Linked DNA regions of Homo sapiens: region 1 is linked to region 2. Evidence: fine-mapped QTL for protein levels in blood plasma. A gene starts in region 2. The other region holds a variant in brackets. All regions are shown on one strand. Distances are from middle to middle. Region 1 holds the start of CLEC4E (C-type lectin domain family 4 member E). Region 2 holds the start of CLEC4D (C-type lectin domain family 4 member D).

What was found. PIP is the posterior inclusion probability: the model's chance that the variant is causal. Protein levels are from antibody-based Olink assays in UK Biobank. Linkage for the fine-mapping came from a reference panel and not from the study's own genotypes, which makes the PIPs less certain.
Region 1: its variant is fine-mapped to the plasma level of the CLEC4D protein (UK Biobank, PIP above 0.99).

What each region holds. Positions count from the first base shown.
Region 1 is chr12:8,539,058-8,543,457 of GRCh38, forward strand. It overlaps CLEC4E (C-type lectin domain family 4 member E), which reads right to left and starts at 1,848. Exons shown (of 6, transcript NM_014358.4): 1 at 1,704-1,848; 2 at 798-890; 3 at 160-249. The coding sequence starts at 1,740. The variant T/C (reference allele first, on the strand shown) is at 1,765.
Region 2 is chr12:8,511,326-8,515,725 of GRCh38, forward strand. CLEC4D (C-type lectin domain family 4 member D) reads left to right here and starts at 2,178. Exons shown (of 6, transcript NM_080387.5): 1 at 2,178-2,435; 2 at 3,911-4,003. The coding sequence starts at 2,408. It also overlaps the pseudogene SUPT4H1P2.

The DNA of each region.
Region 1 (4,400 bases), 28 kb after region 2:
GCCCCAATGCTAATTGCATCACCAAATTTCTAGGATTTTACATTTTGCTTTTGAAAAATAAGACCTAATCCAGCTATATCTCACCTGTCCCAAAGTCAATCTAGAAGCCAGAAAATGTTGCTTTGTAAATTTTGATGTTCACCTTTGGGACTATTATACCTGATCCATAATTGTAGCAGGAGAGCTCTGTGAAATTCTCAGGTAGCTGAAACTTTTTCTCATCACAGGTTTGAAAGATGCGAAATGTCACTGTAAAAGAAAGGGCATAATGTTTGTTAGTCTTATTTCGGTTAAAAATGTCAGTTCCCTCAGTTTTGTATTTATAACAAAAGTGCCAATAATTATCATGTTTTTTCTTACAATCTGCTTTTTCTTACGACCCAGAGAAAATAGATATGTTTGCACTACCTCTTATGCCAAGTCCAACTCTCTCTACCCTTCCTTCCAAAAGTAATTAGTCATATCTCTGGTGCCGACCAGTAGTTCAAGCTCTAAGGCAGACTCTCCTAGAGAAGGTTACACTAATGATAGAGGCTGAAAGAGGAGGATTCAGGACTGCCAAGGAAGTGAAAAATGTCTATCATGAAAAGTAAGTCACAGGTGATTAAAATTCAGAAACAGTTCCCTGCTTGTTGAGGTTTCTGGTTTGAGAAATAACCTAGAGATTAATAGGGAAAAAAAAAAGGGTGAAATAGAAAGACCCTTTGAGGGCAAAGAGAGTCTACAGGCAGCATGGAAGAGTTTTCTCCTAATATGCACCAGGAAGAATTAAATTGAATTTGACCTTCAGAACCCACCAACACATCTGGTGATGAAACAGGCACTGAGAAATAGGATGGGGATCCCAGCAACAGTCCATAAGAACATTTGGGAAGAGAAGCATCCTCTCTCTGTAGAAAGAAAGACACAAACATGATCAATCTTCCCTAAGCAAGGTACAAAAGAGATAGAAGAGATTCTTATTCATCCTTACTTATTTCCTTCTACTTCCATTGTTTGTACTGAGTAATTCCCAAATTTCAGCATGCTTCAGAATCACTTGGAGGGTTTATGGAAACACAGATTGCTGACCCTTACCCCCAGAGTTAGCAACTCAGTAGAGTTTGTATGGAACCAACAAGTTCCCAGGGGCTACTGCTGCTGCTGGTCTGAGGACCACACGTTTAGCACCCCTGGAGTAAGACTCTGACTCATGAACTCAGATATACAATTTTTCCTTTCTAAGTCTCTCAGTTAAATTTTTTTCAGTATTTTCTAAGGCCCCCCTTCTTTCTTTTTCTTTCTTTTCCCTTTTCTCGTCTTTGCTTTTCTTGTCCTTCTCCTGATCTTTTTTTTTTTTCTGTGTCTCACTTTTCAAGCGCTTTGTAAATTAGGTAAAATGTTAACAGTCATCTAATAGTTCCTCTCTTCCTCCCATTAAACATTTTACAGACAAAGAGAGTTCCAGAGAAGTGAAGTGACTTGCCAAAAGGGACACAATGTATTGCAGAAAGGGTGGAAACTGATAGCTCTCCCTTAGCTAGAGGCCAGCAGGCTTTCTGGTATAAGAAATAGTCTTTAAATCTCTCTCTCTCTCTTCCTCTGTCCCCCCACTTTTTTTTTTAACTTCAGTGAATACTTTTCTATTGTCCTGTCTTTCACCATATTTATCACTTGTTCCAAAAAGAGATCTATGGAAGGAAAGGAAGAGTTGCAGATTTTACCTGTGCATTGTGTTTCAGATGATTTAGATGAATTCATTTTTTCTCTCTCTTTGGTTTTTTG[T/C]TTCTCTCTCTCTCTTTTTCTCTCCCTCCCTCTCTTTCTTTCTCCTCAGGAGTGTTTTGTTGGTAAGATTCAGGGAGAATGAATCTTGAAAGATAAACACTTTGTCTTTTAGGAAGTTCAGCTCCGATAGATGTAGAATATTAACTTGTTCTGTGGCTACGCATTAAGTCAGGATTTCCTTTCTTGCATAAGGAGGACAAGGAAGTTTATTGGACAGCATGTCAGTTCTCTTCACTCCATGTAACAACAAAATGAGGAAATTATGAAATGGTAAGCATCAACACAAATAGGCTAGCCATGGGGAAACAGGAGAGTTTTTTTTTTAAATGTTGTTTCGTTTCGTTGGACCAAATGTCTCTAGTTTCTTCAAGGCATAACTCATCCCCCAGTTTTTCCTTGACAATATGGAGCTCACCTCTGCACTCTGAATTTCACTTTGGATCTGTACCATCCACACATTTGGTAACTGAAAAGAAGACTTAGACAACATAGCACAAAGCTGGGCATATAGTGTATGTATTTAGGACATGGCAACCTGAATTTTTTCATCTTTTTTTTTTTTTTTTTTTTTGAGACAGAGTCTCGCTCTGTCGTCCAGGCTGGAGTGCAGTGGCATGATCTCCGCTCACTGCAAGCTCCGCCTCCCGGGTTCAAGCCATTCTCCTGCCTCAGCCTCCCGAGTAGCTGGGACTACAGGCGCTCGCCACCACGCCTGGCTAATTTTTTGTATTTTTAGCAGAGACGGGGTTTCACTGTGGTCGTCAGGATGGTTTCAATTTCCTGACCTCGTGATCCGCCCGCCTCAGCCTCCCAAAGTCCTGAGATTACAGGCGTGAGCCACCGCGCCCGTCCTCTTTTTCATCTTTTATGGTTTTTCTTTCTTCTTCATTTGCAGCTCTTGAATATTCTAATGTTGTGGATTTATGTCCCTCTTATCTTATGCTGACTACTAGGCTGCTACTACTAGGCTGACTACTAGAGTCCCCCTCAGCAGGACAGCCTCATGTGATTAGACCACTTTGAAACTCAGCTTAGTTTTTCACAACATAACGCAGCTTCTGAAGTCTCAGAGACCCAGCAGGCAGTTTAATTCTCCTGTTCTCAATTATTTGGGGATTTTAGTTCTATGTTACAGCCTACAGTAGGAGAAATGTATTTGAAGGTCAGAAAAAGCAATTTCAATTAGATATTAGAATTTAATGGTTCTCTGGGCCGGGAGCAGTGGCTCATGCCTGTAATTCCAACACTTTGGGAGGCCAAGGTGGGTGGATCATTTGAGGTCAGGAGTTTGAGACCAGCCTGGCCAACATGGTGAAACCCCACCTCTACTAAAAATACAAAAATTAGCCAAGTGTGGTGGCACGCATCTGTAATTCCAGATACTTGAGAGGCTGAGACAGGAGAATAGCTTGATCCTGGGAGGCAGAGGTTGCAGTGAGCCAAAATTGCACCACTGCACTCCAGCCTGGGCGATAGAGTGAGACTCTGTCTCAAAAAAAAAAAAAAAAAAGAATTAATGCTTCTCTGGAAGAATAGTTAGATATGTGCCTTCTCCTTACTTAAAGATACTTAAGAATAAGATCACACTGGTCTCAGTTTATTTAAGTTCACGAGTCAGGAGGCATAAGTATGATGTACATGACTTGGTAAATCCCCACATCCAGTGACTCACGAATTTTCCATGTGTGAGAAAATATTCTTGTTCTCAAAGGGACTTTTTATTATTTCAAGGTACTGGTCAATTTTCTCTGCATTCTCTGTTTTATAGTAATACAATTTTAAAAATATCTTTAAATTATATATGTGTATATTATAGAATATACCCATATTTAATATGTGTATTCTCAGCAAATAGCTTTTGATCAGTAAAAAAAGAGAAACTATCTAGTGGATGAGCTATATGAATTATAAAATGATGAACATAATTACCACAGTCCATCTTTTATTAATTACAATCAACCAGCAACCATCAATATTACTAAACAATTGTATGTTAATTTTTATCAATATACAATTAAACAGAAATCAATAAATTAATATTTTTTCCAGCCAAAATGTTTTTATATCTTTTGTTTCATTGATTTTCCCCAAATTATACGAGTAATATGTTTTATGATTAATACTATGAAAAGCATGTGACAAGTAAAAGCCTTCTTAACTATCCTTAGTGCATTCTTCTAAAGTTGACCATGCTTAATGATTTCTTTTTTGGGGGGGGGGATTAATTTTTATTTATTTTTATTTATCTTTTATTACACTTTAAGCTTTAGGGTACGTGTGCACAACGTGCAGGTTTGTTACATATGCATACATGTGCCATGCTGGTGTGCTGCACCCATTAACTCGTCATTTAGCATTAGGTATATCTCCTAATGCTATCCCTCCCCCCTCCCCCCACCCCACAACAGTCCCCAGAGTGTGATGTTCCCCTTCCTGGGTCCAAGTGTTCTCATTGTTCAATTCCCACCTATGAGTGAGAACATGCGGTGTTTGGTTTTTTGTTCTTGCGATAGTTTGCTGAGAATGATGGTTTCCAGCTTCATCCATGTGCCTACAAAGGACATGAACTCATCATTTTTTATGGCTGCATAGTATTCCATGGTGTATATGTGCCACATTTTCTTAATCCAGTCTAT
Region 2 (4,400 bases):
TTTCTACAATCACAACATTCCTGAGGTAAACAGGCAAGGTGTAATCATTCTTTTTTTACAGAGGGAGAACAAGGAACTTAGGGAAATCAAAATGGGGACACTAACAGGATTTCTGTGGAAATTTAAGTAAATGAGAATTTGTAGTAAATTTTTTATCCTAAAACAAATAACTCACTTTGGCCGAAAAATGGGATGTTACCCAAGGTCCCCTACTGGGCCGGCGGAGAAAAGGACCTGCCTCCTACAGGGGCACAAACAAGGCAGACTAGGACCCAGCAGTCGGCCAAGGCCCAAGGGTCTCCAGTAAGGAAAATGTAAAATGTGAGTGTGTGAGACTGGCCTAAGATATAGGAAGAGCAGTAAAGAGAAGAAAACTGACGAGCAGAGGGGGAAAAGAATTATTAAACATGGTCAAGGAGCAAGGAGCACGACAAAGCCTCAGGATTTCTTCAAGGGATACTGCTGTGCCAGGTCTCAAGGGCAGAAGGATACAAGCACAAGACACCAGGGCCACCAAGCTGATGGGGTTACTGAGCCTCTGGACAGCACCTTCTGATAGGAAGCAAGGAAGCACACTACAAAGGCTGCAATCCTGGAGGCTGAGACAGTCAAGAGGGAGTGGAAGGGCCTCTGCTGCTCTGGGAAGGTATCTTATAGGGCAAATAAGCTCTTACTGTGTGCCTAAGAGAAAGGAAGAGGGAAGCGAGGCAGGTGTCATGGCCTTAAGAACTTTCTAGAGGTTTCTATTTATTGACATTTGACCTAGACCTCTTCATGAGCAAGGCGCAGCCTTGGGCTACAGGTAGGAAAGTCAGCATCCTACTCTCTCCTCAATTCCATCTGTTAATCCACCAACCCAAATCCCTCCCACCCCCACCTGAAGTCCAAATAAGGTAAAATGATAAAATGATGTGCTGTTCTCTCAACAGTTGGCTGAGTCTGAATTGGAGGGTAGGAAGCATTTGAAGCTCTGCCCATTTAGTTCCAGAACAAAAAATAAGCAGAGGCAGGAGGTGGAGAGCAAAGACGCTGGCAGCCCTGCGTCTGGTCTTTATAGCTGTGTCTTTGGATTTGTAGGCCACTCCTCAACTTTTCAGCTCCCGCACGATTCCTTAGGGCAAGCGACCAGTGGTTGACACCGCATATACACCTGGCTTAAAGTTATTGACTCGCTGCCAGTTGGAGACCCAGCTGTCCTCTGGACTCATCATCGCAATGATTCCATCAAAGGAGGAGCTGGTGCAGCCATATAGCATCTCTCAGTTACCCTTCATCTGTAGATATGCATCTCAATAGTCACAACCATCATATTCAAACTGGTCTATAGTACCTTGACCAGTGAACACAGCAAACAGGCCCACAGATGCCACAGGTCCTTCAGCACCGTCTCCAGGGCCATCTTCTCCAATGAGAAGAGCAACAGCAAGGAAGATGGCCACAGCCTGAGCACCCGCAGGAAGTAAACAGCTCGTTAGCCGGGTCTCTTCTTATAATTCCATCATGAGGACCCCATTCTCATGACCTCATATTAAACCTAATTACCTCCCAAACTTTTGACCTCCAAATGCCATTACGTTGGAGGGTAGTGCTTCCACCAATGAATTTTGAGGAGATACAGACATTCACTCCCTAACAGTGCTATAAATGAAGTCAGGGACCCTGATGGTGTCTTTATCACAGAATCTTACATTTTCTTTGTCTTTGCCTTAACACAACTCTTTTTGCTCACCTAGAAAGTTCTTGGGATTTAATTAACTGCTCTATCATCTCTTCCTCAACTCGAAAACAAAGGTTGCTGTGTCTTCACATGCCATGTACACACAAGGTATACTTTAAAAGTTTTTGTTCATTGTTCACATTGTCTTTTGCTCTCTTAGACTCAACTTTTTATTCAGTCCAGAGAACTTTTTAGTATAGAACTCACCCCAAGAATATAACTGCCTTTGAAAATATAATATTCACAAAAAGAATTTAAAAAGAGGGGACATTTACTAAATTTTTATTGGGCATAACAATTATTTCTTTTAGGGCGTTGCTAAATTTTTTGTCTAAATGAAAAAAAAAACAAATTGAGAAATTCCACATTTCACACTGATCTAGTGATCTCAACATACTTGTGGGTTTCTACTAACTGTTGTTTGGTATTGCTTTCTCAATTTCCTTTTTTTTTTTTTTTCGCCTCATCTCCCGGAATGTATCAAAGGAAACCCCTGTCTTTGAAAAAGACTTCTTTTGAGCTAACTTTCTTATACTGGTACCTTTCTAATCTCACTACAATATGTAACATTGGTGTTCGATCTCAAGTATTTCTGAATATATTCCCCTATCCACAGAAATATACTCTGGGGGAAAAAAAATAGAACAAATTCTTGCCGTCCTGACCATTGAACAAGAGACTAATTAGACAATGGGGCTAGAAAAACCTCAAAGTAAACGTGAGTACTTTCTCTCCTTTCCATTTCAAAGAAGCAGATGGAATTATACTAATTTAAAACATATGAATTGATGGTAGTTTTAAAGATTGTTGATGATGACGGGGAGAAGGAGGTGGAAGGAAATAAAAATGACGTTGGTGAAGAGGAAGGACATAGAGTCAAATAAGTTGGATAACAGAAACTTCTTTATAAAATGTATATTGGACCAAGAGGGGAGATAAAATATATAAAAGAGAAATAAGATGAAAAGAAAGAGAGTAATATGAGAAGATTCTTTTAAAGAAAAAAGAGAAAAGGAAGATGTAGAAAAAGCATTTAGGCTTATGCTGTATCAGAGGCTCTAACTGTCCCATTTTATGTTTGACTTAAGTGACACCAGTGGATTTGTATTGTGATAATATTAAATAATATTTTTGATAGATATATAGAACAAGTGTGGAAATGTTTAAATTAAAATTAAAGTTTTACTTTATCTCATCACCCTACCATGGCAAACTGTAATCACAGTGTGATCCTATTGAATTACCTTTTTAGGTAACAATATTTCTTAGAGATTTTTTGCATCAATATATACTGATTACATGCTTATTTAATTACTATACAGAATATCATTGTGTGAAGGGACCATAATTTAGAATTTCCACTATTGATAATATACATGTAAATATTAGATTACAGTATGTGTTTTCTATTTTGAGAAGTACTGCAATGAATATCTTTTAACATAAACAAGCTCAATTATTTCTATAGAATAGACACCTGTAATTGAAATTATTGTGGCAAATGAAATGCATTTAAAAATGGATAAATGCCACTAAATTGATCCTTCTAAAAGGCATTCCTAATTTTCCAGTCCAGGCAGCAGCATTTATTTTCTCACTAAGAGTGCTTATTTCCCCTCAGCCTTGCCAACACTGCATGTACTTAATTTACTTAAAAAATCTGATGTGTGAAAAGTTATACCACAATCTTTTCGTTTACAGTTCCCTGATTGGGCATATTTTTGTTTGATTAGTGGCTATTTATAACTTCAGCAAATTAAAATTTCAGCAAATTTCCTGCTCAGAGTTTTGCTCAGTTTTCTAGTTGATTTTGAAATACTTTATCCAGTGCGGATATTAATATTATGAGAAGACTTTCCTTTCATACGTTCCTTGACTCTAACATTGCTTGTGTTATATAGAAGTTTTAATTTTTATGTACTCAAATTATCTATTCTAATGGCTCTTGGGTTTTGTATCTTACTTATAAAATTCTTTTCATTTCAAAATTACCAAGAAATTTTACATTTTTCTTTCTTATTTATTTATTCATCAATAAGCTCTAAAATTGATTTATTTGGAGAAAATATTTATGCTCTTCTCTAGATCTGAAATATTTGGTTTGCTGTCACTTTTAGATTGCTCCTTGGTAGAATTAGCTTTCCTAGCTTGTAGCTGAGAGGAGGTTAATCTCTATTTTTCTTTTGGTCCTAGTGGAAGGAGGCATGCATCCCCAGCTGATACCTTCGGTTATTGCTGTAGTTTTCATCTTACTTCTCAGTGTCTGTTTTATTGCAAGTTGTTTGGGTAAGTTATTAGCCAAAGTAGAACTCTTCTTGAATTATTATTTCCAAACAACTTTTCTGAAGTTGCTCTAAGCCTTTTGGTATCTTGATTTTTCCTAGCATAACCTATCTATAATATCTTCAGGGTCTTGCACTGAATATTCAGAGCTACATTCTTGACCTTCTGTCTTTCAATGGTGGTACCTTGTGATAGAGATTGATTGATGGAATTTAGACCATTTTCTGTACATGTAAAAGTTGGTTACTATAGCAAATTTCCCCCCATTTTGGACTGGGATCACAAAGGGATACATCTTATGAGAAAAGAGTAAGCAGAAGAAAAATAACTTTCAGATAGACTGGCTTTGAAAAGAACAAGGTTGGAAGAATTGTTCTCTCTCTCTCTTTCCCTCTCTTTC